Linked DNA regions of Homo sapiens. The protein of the gene in region 2 interacts with the protein of the main gene of each other region in a biochemical or structural test. Each region holds a gene or a part of one and is shown on either strand. Other genes may lie near its edges. The genes, in order: FCN3, FN1 and FYN.

Region 1 (3,750 bases), on a different chromosome or scaffold from region 2:
TATCCCTCTCGCGGACACATCCTGTCAGGCAAACACTGCCTCCACTTCCCCTGATACCACTTGCACCTCAGCCCTCTCCATAAGCACCAGGGAGGTGCAGAGGAGGCCTTGAGGGAGGGTTTCCTGAATGAGTGAATGAATGAGCCCTGCCTCTCCTCCCTTATCACCTGAGGTCCCTCTCCAGCTCAGGCCTGATCCTTCACATCTGGACCCTGGCTGCTGCGTCCTCCCTGGCTTCCCGGCCTCCAGGCCTTCCTACATGGGCTTCCCGCTCAATTGGCGTACATTAGCAGCTGTTTCCTAAGCCTCACGGGACTCAAGGTTGAGCATGGAGTCACTTTCTTTTTTTTTGAGACGGAGTTTTTGCTCTTTCGCCCAGGCTGGAGTGCAGTGGTGCGATCTCGGCTCATTGCAACCTCTGCCTTCGGGTTTCAAGTGATTCTCTTGCCTCAGCCTCCTGAGTAGCTGGGATTACAGGTGCATGCCACCAAGCCCGGCTAATTTTTGTATTTTTAGTAGAGACAGGGTTTCACCGTGTTAGCCAGGCTGGTCTCGAACCCCTGACCTCAGGTGATCTGCCTGCCTCGGACTCCCAAAATCCCGGGATTACAGGCATGAGCCACCGCAGCCAGCCAGAATCACTTTCTTAATGGTGCTTTTCCCTGGCGGGGGCATGGGGCTTGGGTAAAACTCTGTTGCTCTCAGCATATAAGTGGCCAAGAGAACAGAAGTCACGTCCCATCACTGGGCCTCAGTTTCTCTTTCCTTATTCATTTAACTCTTTCTTACTGAGCACCCATTTTGTACCAGGCCCATAATGCAATAATAAGGATTAATAGCAAGTCCATGTGAGGATCGGAGGTGACGTCAGTATGACGCTGGAATGCAGTAGATGCCCAGGAAATGGTAGCAGTTGTCACTATTCATAGCATTGACAAGGATCAGGGAAGGATTCCCAGTGGAGATGGCTGTAGAGCTAGACCTTCATGGACAGATGGGGCTTCACAGGTAGAGACGACTGTGAATGTAGAGGTCTGGAGAGATGGCTGGGGAGCCCTGGAAGCCAGGATCAGAAGTTGGACTCTTTCAGTGTGCGGTGGCTCACACCTGTAATCCTAGCACTTTGGGAGGCCGAGGTGGGTGGATCACCTAAGGTCAGGATTTCGAGACCAGCCTGGCCAACATGGTGAAACCCCTTCTATACTAAAAAAAAAAATACAAAAAATTAGCTGGGCTTGGTGGCGTGCACCCATAATCCCAGCTACTTGGGAGGCTGAGGCAGGAGAATCACTTGAACCCGGGAGGCAGAGGTTGCATTGGTTGCATTGAGCTGAGAGCACGCCATTGCATTCCAGCCTGGGCAACAAGAGTGAAACTCCGTCTCAAAAAAACAAAAAAACAAAAAACAAAAAACAAAAAGATGTTGGACTCCATCCTGGTTGGATAGGGCAGGGATAATGCCCTTTCTCTCTGGGGCTGAAGGAGGAAATACTCCCACCCCCTGCTGGCTCCAGTCTGGGTGGGGTGTCCCTGGGGGACAATGGGAGGAAGTCTTGTTTCATGTCCTCCCACCAGCCTGGCCCCCTTATAATCTGGCATCCTTCCCCTGGTGGGCCCAGCAAGATGGATCTACTGTGGATCCTGCCCTCCCTGTGGCTTCTCCTGCTTGGGGGGCCTGCCTGCCTGAAGACCCAGGAACACCCCAGCTGCCCAGGTGGGCACCTAGGGTGCCCTCCTCACCAACCCACTCCTCATTCCCTCGCTGGGTGTCCCCCCACCAAGGCTCATCAACCTCAAGGAGCAGGGTGGGAGTTTCATAATCTGGGCTCTGCATGTAAATATATGCAAATGGATGCAAAGCACACGAAACCTTGCCAGCTCAGGAGACAAGCATCCTGACAGTGGGAATCTGGGAGACAGGAAGAGAACTGAAGAGGGGTCTGGAAGAGACAGTCTACCCTGTGCCCACCCTGCCTGTGTCTCCCTGTAGGACCCAGGGAACTGGAAGCCAGCAAAGTTGTCCTCCTGCCCAGTTGTCCCGGAGCTCCAGGAAGTCCTGGGGAGAAGGGAGCCCCAGGTCCTCAAGGTGAGAGGGGCTGGGGAGCGGGCTGGGATCTTGGGAATGGGGAAGGCAGGAAAGTAGCAATTTTTGTCTGTGCTGAGGGGCCACGACAAAGGAGCAAGGAACCTACTCTGTGCCAGCTCCAGGCTGGGCACCCGGCATCCTAAGATCAACTCTGCCAGGTAAGTGGTTTCATCCCCATTCTGCTGAGGAGGAAAGGGAGGTTCAGAGAGGATAAGATATTTGCCCGCAATCACAAAGTGAGTGAAGGGTGAAACTGGGATTTGAACCTCTGGCTCCAAGTCTCTTGTTTCTTTTTGGTCCTGGGCATGGGGTGGGACTCAGGAAATCTCTGCCTTTGTGATTTCAGGGCCACCTGGACCACCAGGCAAGATGGGCCCCAAGGGTGAGCCAGGTGAGTAAGTGGGGCTGGAGGCCTCCCCGCTTTCTTTGCCTCTGTCCCTGGACTCTAGGGTGGGATCTCTGCTTGGCTGCTGTGCCTATGATGGCTCTCTCACAGGGGAATGGATGGCTGGGAGGAGTGGGAAGGATTAGGAGAAGGGCCTGGCTACCCTATGATGGCCCTCCTATTGGGGATGGAGGGCTGGGAGGAGTGGGGAGGATTAGGAGAAGGGCCTGGGTACCCTATGAAGGCCCTCCTACAGGGTTTGGAAGGCTGGGAGGAGTGGAGAGGATTAGGAGAAGGGCCTGGGTACCCTATGATGGCCCTCCTACAGGGTATGGAAGGCTGGGAGGAGTGGGAAGGATTCGGAAAAGGGCCTGGGTACCGGCTCCACTGGTGGCTCAGCGCTGGGGTGCTGAGACATCAGAGCCAACACTCATCCCTTCTCTGGGGCAGGAGATCCAGTGAACCTGCTCCGGTGCCAGGAAGGTGAGGCAGCCCTTGCAGGAGCCAGGAACTTGGGATCACATGGTGTTGGGTGTTGGCAGACCCCCAAGTGTGGCCAAGATCCTCCCCACAGCCTCCTCAGAACCCTTCTTCAGGGACCTGAAGGAGCCAAGAGGGTCCCTAGGGTCCCACACTTGTTCCAGTGCCTGGGGGTGGGGGTCAGGGAATAACCTGGGCACCACCCCAGTCCATCTCCCCTTTCCCAGGCCCCAGAAACTGCCGGGAGCTGTTGAGCCAGGGCGCCACCTTGAGCGGCTGGTACCATCTGTGCCTACCTGAGGGCAGGGCCCTCCCAGTCTTTTGTGACATGGACACCGAGGGGGGCGGCTGGCTGGTGAGTGTCTGAGAAATGGGCTAACAGGCCAGGCCCACTGGTCACTTCTCCCCCTTGGCCCCTAGGGGAGCCAGAACCCACCAGAGCAAGGCATTTCCTAGAGGAATTCACTGACAAATGTTTAGTGAGCCCCCAATGGGACCTGAAGAAGTATGAGGGCTTCACAGAGGAGGTGCCTTTTGAAAAGACCTTAAGTTGAGTGCAGTAGCTCACGCCTGTAATCCCAGCTACTTGGGAGGCTGAGGCAAGAGAATTGCCTGAACCCAGGAGGTGGAGGTTGCAGTGAGCCGAGTTCTTGCCATTGCACTCCAGCCTGGGTGAAAAGAGTGAAACTCTGTCTCAAAAAAAAAAAAAAAAAAAAATAGGGTAGGGAGGGGCATTCCAGCTAGAAGTAAAGATAAACTCAGGGAGGCAGCAGAGTAAAAGGTTTGCAGGGAACGCGTG
Region 2 (3,650 bases):
CATAGTAGAACCAAGAGACCTCTTGGGTTCCATTTCAGTAAGACATGCTTAGGGGAGTTGCCCATTTTAAATCACCTGGATATCTTCAAGCTAGACAAATCATGAGACTTTTCTGCAGTGACTGGGAAGGTGTTCATGAAGAGTGAACCAGCCATGTGTTGTCTGGTCTTCATGTTTGCAATGCAGAGACCTCTTGCACCTCACAGAAACAGTCTGGTTTCTTGGTGACCAGTAGGTTATACCCAGGAAGCAGATGTCACTATTCCTAGGGATAATACAAAATTATTAACCCAATAGAGTTTGCTAAGGAACTTTGGGAACCGGGCTGATTCTCAACTCTAGTTTAGCTAAGGCACTCTTTCCAGTATGATTCACTGGGTTACCAATAGATTCTATTAAGATAGTATTTAAGTTTTTTAATCCATTCTTTAAATATAAGTCGTCTTAAAGACTTCTATTCAAAAGAACAAGTCCCGTGTGAATAGGCCCAATCAACTTTCCCCATATTTCATGTTAGGGTTTATCCAAGTTCACAGGCAAATCGCAAGAGGCAAGGGTCCATAGTGTTTACAATCTAGTTCAGCATTTGAATGTGCCATTGGGCTTAACAACTTAGAAAACTACCAGGATTTCCACACTTTATATGCATATGTCTGTTTGCTTTCCACCAAAATGACATTTCTATCCTAGGGTAAAATACAGGCTCTCCATGCTCCCAAAAGCTGGAGTGCTGTGCCTGATGTGGCCTTTTCACTGAATTAGTCTCAGTCTTAGCCTGCTGTGTATGAGTGAAGACCAAGCCTCCCAGCCTTTCTTTTCTGCTTAGGACCCAATTTCCTGTGATCTCTCTGGGAAAGCAGGATTCATGACCTCTTCCTTGCCATCCAGATTTCTCTGTGGTTTTCCATTGTGTTCTAAGCAAGACACTTAACTGAATTGACTCCAAGTGACCAGACCTGTTAACGTTTCCCCTGTCTCTGATGGGAAAGCTGTTGTCTGTGTCTCTACTTTAGCCAACCTAAGTACCTACCATGGGTGGAATATGAGACCAAAAAAAAAAATCTGTTCTGCCCTCTCCTAACATTTTCGTTGTATCTTCAACAGACCGCTGCCATGAAGGGGGTCAGTCCTACAAGATTGGTGACACCTGGAGGAGACCACATGAGACTGGTGGTTACATGTTAGAGTGTGTGTGTCTTGGTAATGGAAAAGGAGAATGGACCTGCAAGCCCATAGGTGTGTGAGTCTTAGGGCTGAGCAAGAGCTGGGATGCTTAGTTCTAATGTGGGGTTGGACCAGAATCACATCTACATAGGTCATAGACCTGAATTCCAGTGAAAACCAATAAAGAAATGGGAATTTTGTTTGAAATAATGAATTATTATATAATCCATAGTCTTCTTACAGGAGTTAGATCAAAAAGTACTGACTACACATAGAAGTCTTAACTTTGCTTCAAAAGCATAAGGTAGAATTGAAAGATTTAGAATGGAGTCATTTCTTTTACCTAATAGCTGATCTCAGATTCCTCCTTCGTCAAGATATAATTTATTTAAAAGAAAAAAAAATGACACTTTGGACACATTTCTATATGGAATGTCCTGGACCGAAACATGAAATAGTGTGTGCTTGTCACACTCTGCTCATTTCTTTTCAAATTAAAAGTTGTTGAGCTTCTTTGGATCTCAATCCTCAGTTGAATTTTGTAAGTACAAGCCTGAAAGTTTCTGGCTATAAATTTTACTCTGTTTACTTGTCTTCTAATTTAGAGGTTTTTGTCTTGTTTTGTATTGTTTTGCTTTCCAATATTTAAAAATAGCTTTCTTTGTCATTGTATTTAGGCCACTCAAAATTCATAATTGGTCATTTATAATTAAGATTGGAATTTTGCATATGTAGTCTCCCACAGACTAGATACATACATAGATCCTTGCTACTGGAAATGCTGCTGGGAAGTTTGGGGCTCGCTGAAAATATGTAGTCCATGTACTTATTAGGAGAATGGAATTTCTGCCTGCCAACTCAGCTTGAGCTTTCTTTTGCCTTGGCTACTTACTGTGTGCTTAGATGCTGGGTGTGTCATTCTTTCTGAACAGAGTGCCACTTAAAAAAAATGTGGCTGAATTTTTGCTTACACACTACACTTTAAATTACAGGGAGCTTGCACAATTCAAAATAACCTTTTTTTCCTGTTTTTCTTCCAAATTTCCCTACAGCTGAGAAGTGTTTTGATCATGCTGCTGGGACTTCCTATGTGGTCGGAGAAACGTGGGAGAAGCCCTACCAAGGCTGGATGATGGTAGATTGTACTTGCCTGGGAGAAGGCAGCGGACGCATCACTTGCACTTCTAGAAGTATGTTTTACATCTTTATGTTAAAGATTAAGCCAGGTATTGTTTTCTGGATTCCTAGAGAGAAGGGTAATACTATGTTACTCAGAACACATCCAGTATATCAGCATGCTTTGGTAACTTCTGGAAGTCAAGAAAACTTTCATAACCAACTTATTCCGCATCTTCAGAGAAGACTACATAAATAGAAAAACATATCACTTTGATAAGGTTCAATCTCAGCTCACTGCCACTGACATAGAGTTGAACAAAAGGTTTAGGTTTCCTTCTATGTTTGAAATTTAAATAGGGCACATTCACAGGCTAAATTGATAAAATTAAAAAGAATTTATCCCATAAATTAAAATGATTTATCTACTCTGGAGTTAGGGATAGTGTCTCTGACCTAACGCATTTGATTAGTGCTGTAAAGAAGCTGGCCTCTGGTGTCTTTACTGCTCCTTCTAAGATTGTCTTGGGGTCTTAATTGTTGCCTTTGGGTTTGAAGGCTCCTTTTTTGATATTGTAAACTAATAACAGCTAGAGAGTTTGTTGAAGTAAAACAGCCATTAACTACTGGTGTTGTAAATAAGTTTAAAATCAAATCCAAATAATTTGAACCTGTTTTATTTATCTAGCTGAACCCATTTAACTACCTTTAACATAGCCATCATCCAAATTCAAATTCTTTGCTAACAAAAATAGGTCTCTCATGAAAAGTGGTAACCATTTTGACCAAAGCTTTCCCAGAAACTTGCTGGTTTATTAGATATTTTGCATTTAAAATGTTACTGTGATCATCAGACTTCCAAGATCTTTGTGGCAATATTTTAGCTTAAGACAAATTAGATGTCTGATTCAAACCTTATCTGTTATTTAGAACTCTTTAAATAGCAAGTTGGGAAAAGTTTCTCAAAGAGAAGTCATTTATTCCAGAAAATTTTATAAGGACTTACTTTGTTCAAGGTATTATAGGGGTGCAGATATGAAATGAACATTAGCCCAGCCTTCAAAGAGTACTTAGGGGGTCAGGGAGATGAGAAAGTCTTATACATATTTATCATCTGCAAAACACAGTATTAAAGATTTCAACAGAAATACTGAAAGTAGTGCTATGGAGGTTCAGGGGATGATAATACTTTTCGCTGGGGATTTGGGAAAAAGCTCTAATCAGTAATTATACCTTCATGCAAACTTCTATTCTTGTGGTAGATGGATGTGGGTGTGTATTTGTTTGAACCTACATCAACTATTAATTTTTTTTCTCTAACCCAGGAGTTGCAACAATATCCAATTCACAAAGACATCAGATCCTCTATA
Region 3 (3,650 bases), on a different chromosome or scaffold from region 2:
TGGTATGTGCTCAACACCTGTATCAATTAGGCTAATGTTAGCAGGTGTAACAAATAGGCCTGCAAATATATAATGGCTCAAAAGCAATAGACGTTTATTCTTGCTCATTTAATAGTCAAAAATTCATGTTTCTGGTCGGTAGGTGGCTTTCCTCCATGCAGTGACTCTGGGTCCCACACCCCTATCTTGTAGCTCCACCATCCCATAGCTTATCATCGTAACCTGTTTCAGTTTACAGAAGGGGCAACAGAGAGTAGACGGGGCACACCCACTTTTAAAATACCTTAGCCTGGAAGTGCCACCATCACTTCCTCTCACATTCTTTACTTGAGGGCTAGTTATATGGCCACATTTAATTGCAAGGGAGCCTGGGAAATGTAGTTTAGCCATGTGCTCAGAAAAAAGATACAGAATAAATGTATTTTTATTGAACAGCTTTGTCAAACACTGCCACTTATCAAGGCACATTCACTGCCCTCAAGAAACTTATAGGCTAATGGGAATTAAATAGAAACCTAGAGCGGACACCCGTCATTGCTTTTCTTTTGATTTTATAAGTTTAGATCTTTTCATCCTAAGCATGTTTCAAAAATCTTACTTTTTGTCATGTTTCAAATTTTATGTTTCAAATGTTGCCAATTCCTACTCAATAATCCCATGTGATACAATCATCTGATGCTTCCTGTGTTGACTTTGATGTGGTTCTTTTACTCCAAAAGCACCTTTCTTGGCTTCATTTTTCATCTGGTCATTCTGTAGACTCCCAAAGTTGCTAGGAGAGTCCTTAGAAATCACACTCCTTCTGGATGTTGCAGCTCACGCCTGTAATCCCAGCACTTTGGGAGGCTGAGGTGGGTGGATCACTTTAGCCCAAGAGTTTGTTATCAGCCTGGGCAACATAGTGAGACCTCGTCTCCACGAAAAATCTTTTAAAAACTATCCAGGCATGGTAGCATGCATCTGTGGTCCCAGCTACTCAAGAGGCTGAGGTGGGAGGATCACTTGAGCCTGGGAGGTAGAGACTGCAGTGAGCTGAGGTCATACCACTGTACTCTAGCCTGGGCTCCAGAGTGAGACCCTATCTCAAAAAGAAAAACAGAAATCACAGTCCCACTCCCTCTTAATTGGAAGAGGAAATTAATTAGCCTGAGAGGTGAAACTCCTTGCCCCAAGGCCTTGCAGCTTCTTAACGGAAGGGCAGGAGGCTCAGCCAGCCAGCTCTTCAGGCCCACATGGGTCTCCTCTGTCACTCAGCTGCCCTCTTTGTCTGTGAGTCTTGCATATTCCACGGAGGTTAAGTGAGCTTCCAAATCTCCATGAGCAGGGTTCTAGTGTTCTGGGTAGTCCCTGTTCTCCACAGGCTTCCAAATTGTTGGAGCAATTCCATTCATACCAGCCATCATAATTGTTAATGCACTTTTTTTTGCCATGAATACTTCATTATATTCATCTGTTCTGCAGACATTAGCCTAGTATGTTACTTTGTGCAAGGCACTGGGGAGATGAGGTCCTGGAAATGAATACTTCTGCTGTCCTTGCTTTTCAGAAGTTCACGGTCTACTAGAAGAGATAAAAATAATTAATAATTGTTAACATTTGTTGAGCATTTACTATATGCCAAGCACTGTTTAAGCTCCGATCTTAACAATAATAATATGAAGTGGTTTCACTTATAATCTCCGTTTTACAGATGGGAAATTGAAGCAAACTTTAGTAGCTTGTTAAGTAACTAATTCAAGATCATACAGCTACTAAGTGGTAGAGTCAGGATTCAGGTCCAATTAGTTTGGTTCCAAAGCCTTTGCCCTTAGCCACTAGGTAATATTCAAAATACTACATATAATGATGATATTAAAATACGTTATGTGCCATAAGGGAGGGTGACTGAAATGCTTTAGAAACTAAGACTTTTGGTTGATGAGAAATATAATTTTATAGCCAAATAGAAATACAATATTCATCCCTACCCTCCTTCCATTCAGACACTTATCTACTACTTACCTGGGAAATACAAAATTAAATTAAACAATGGTAAAGCAAGGCATGTCGATACTGGAAATAATTTTACTCTGTGTGATTATTTAAAGCTGGGTCTTTCTGTGGTACACAATTAGGTCTGTATAAGTTTATGAATTGTCTACATACTTACTCATTTAACAGCATTCATTCATTGCGTATTCTATTTGCCAGACAATTAATTCGATGGTTCAAGGCAAAAGAGATGTGATCCTGTCCCGAAGGAACTTACTTGCTAGTTTTGCAGAGCTATAAAGGAGTCTCTGACCAATGTTAGAAATGCTGGGATTTTAGGGGTCCATGTAGGATGGCAGAGAGTGTGCAGAATGGAGCATGAACCTGGAAAAGAGGTGGGCAAGTGGGATAGCCAAGCAGAGAAGGCTGGAAGAGGAGGGGTCTGAAGGCAAGATGAGTAGAGATGGCTAGGTGAGTGTTGTGGGAAGCTCCCTGTCCCAGAAAGAACAGCCCAGAGGGCGAATGCACAGACCTTTTGGGGAACTGCAGTTAGTTCAGGGCTGTTTGGAGTGGTACAGAGATGGACAAAGGGAAATGACAGAGCTGAAGGAGAAACTGAGAAAGATTCTTGTACGTACTTTATCCTGAGTGCCATTTAAGAGTTGTAAGTGGAGATGTGGCTTTGATGTGATTGTATTTTTATAAAGATCTGGCCACAGTATGGGCCTTTGACCGAGGGCAGGCAGAACTAATGCAGGGAAGGTAGTTATGGAAACTTAAATGAGTAGTAGATGAGGGTCTAAATGGAAGGAAAGGAGGTGCAGATGGAGCAAAAAAGAATTAGAGAGCAGTAGACAGGGTGTAGGGGTAGGTAGAAAAGAATTTCTCTGGGAAATTAGGTAGAGACAAGCAGTCCAATAAGGAAAGCAGGGGGCAGGTATCTAAGCGATGACTTTATCTTAAACACTTTAGACTTCCAGGTGTAGTAGCTCATAGGCAGGTAAATAGAGAGGTCTGGAGTGAGGGAAGAGGACTAGGTCTTTTTTTTTTTTTTTTTTTTTTTTCCCGAGACGGAGTTTCGCTCTTGTTGCCCAGGCTAGAGTGCAATGGCGTGATCTCAGCTCACTGCAACCTCCACCTCCCAGGTTCAAGCGATTCTCCTGCCTCAGCCTCCCGAGTAGCTGGGATTACAGGCACCCAACGCCACACCCGGCTAATTATTGGGGTTTCGCCACGTTGGCCAGGCTGGTCTCGAACTTCTGATTGCAGGGGATCTACCTACCTCAGCTTCCCAAAGTGCTGAGATAATAGGCATGAGCCACTGCTCCCAGCCAGGACTAGGTCTTGAATATAAATTCGTTAGCAAACAAATTACAAAAATTGAAGCCATGGATGTGGGTGAGGTCACCCAGGGAGAATGTGTGGAGTAGAAAGAGCAGAAAGGGCAGAGAGCAAGCCCAGGAACAGAGGAGGAGTCAGGCCCAGAATGGGAGAGGAGCCTGCGGAGTACTAGACCAGCTTCAGAGTTGAGCAACATAAAGAACAAAAAATGCAGTTGGATTTAGCACTGAAGATATCTGAACCTGCCCAAAGCAGCATCAGGAGAACTAGAGGGGGAGAAGTCTAGAAATCTGTTGCTCCCCAGCCAGGGTAAAAACACATATCAAAGCCTGTAGAAC

What was found.
Region 1: the proteins of FN1 (region 2) and FCN3 form a complex in vitro, tested with the Homo sapiens proteins (one study listed by IntAct).
Region 3: the proteins of FN1 (region 2) and FYN form a complex in vitro, tested with the Homo sapiens proteins (one study listed by IntAct).

The regions. Positions count from the first base shown.
Region 1 is NC_000001.11:27,372,692-27,376,441, reverse strand, and holds the start of FCN3 (ficolin-3 isoform 1 precursor), read left to right. Parts: upstream 1-1,617; 5' UTR 1,618-1,623; coding exon 1,624-1,714; intron 1,715-1,990; coding exon 1,991-2,086; intron 2,087-2,432; coding exon 2,433-2,477; intron 2,478-2,921; coding exon 2,922-2,954; intron 2,955-3,178; coding exon 3,179-3,306; intron 3,307-3,750. UniProt on the Homo sapiens protein: May function in innate immunity through activation of the lectin complement pathway. Calcium-dependent and GlcNAc-binding lectin. Has affinity with GalNAc, GlcNAc, D-fucose, as mono/oligosaccharide and lipopolysaccharides from S.typhimurium and S.minnesota.
Region 2 is NC_000002.12:215,429,419-215,433,068, reverse strand, and holds part of FN1 (fibronectin isoform 1 precursor), read left to right. Parts: intron 1-1,104; coding exon 1,105-1,236; intron 1,237-2,216; coding exon 2,217-2,354; intron 2,355-3,650. UniProt on the Homo sapiens protein: Fibronectins bind cell surfaces and various compounds including collagen, fibrin, heparin, DNA, and actin. Fibronectins are involved in cell adhesion, cell motility, opsonization, wound healing, and maintenance of cell shape.
Region 3 is NC_000006.12:111,866,844-111,870,493, reverse strand, and holds part of FYN (tyrosine-protein kinase Fyn), read left to right. Parts: intron 1-3,650. UniProt on the Homo sapiens protein: Non-receptor tyrosine-protein kinase that plays a role in many biological processes including regulation of cell growth and survival, cell adhesion, integrin-mediated signaling, cytoskeletal remodeling, cell motility, immune response and axon guidance.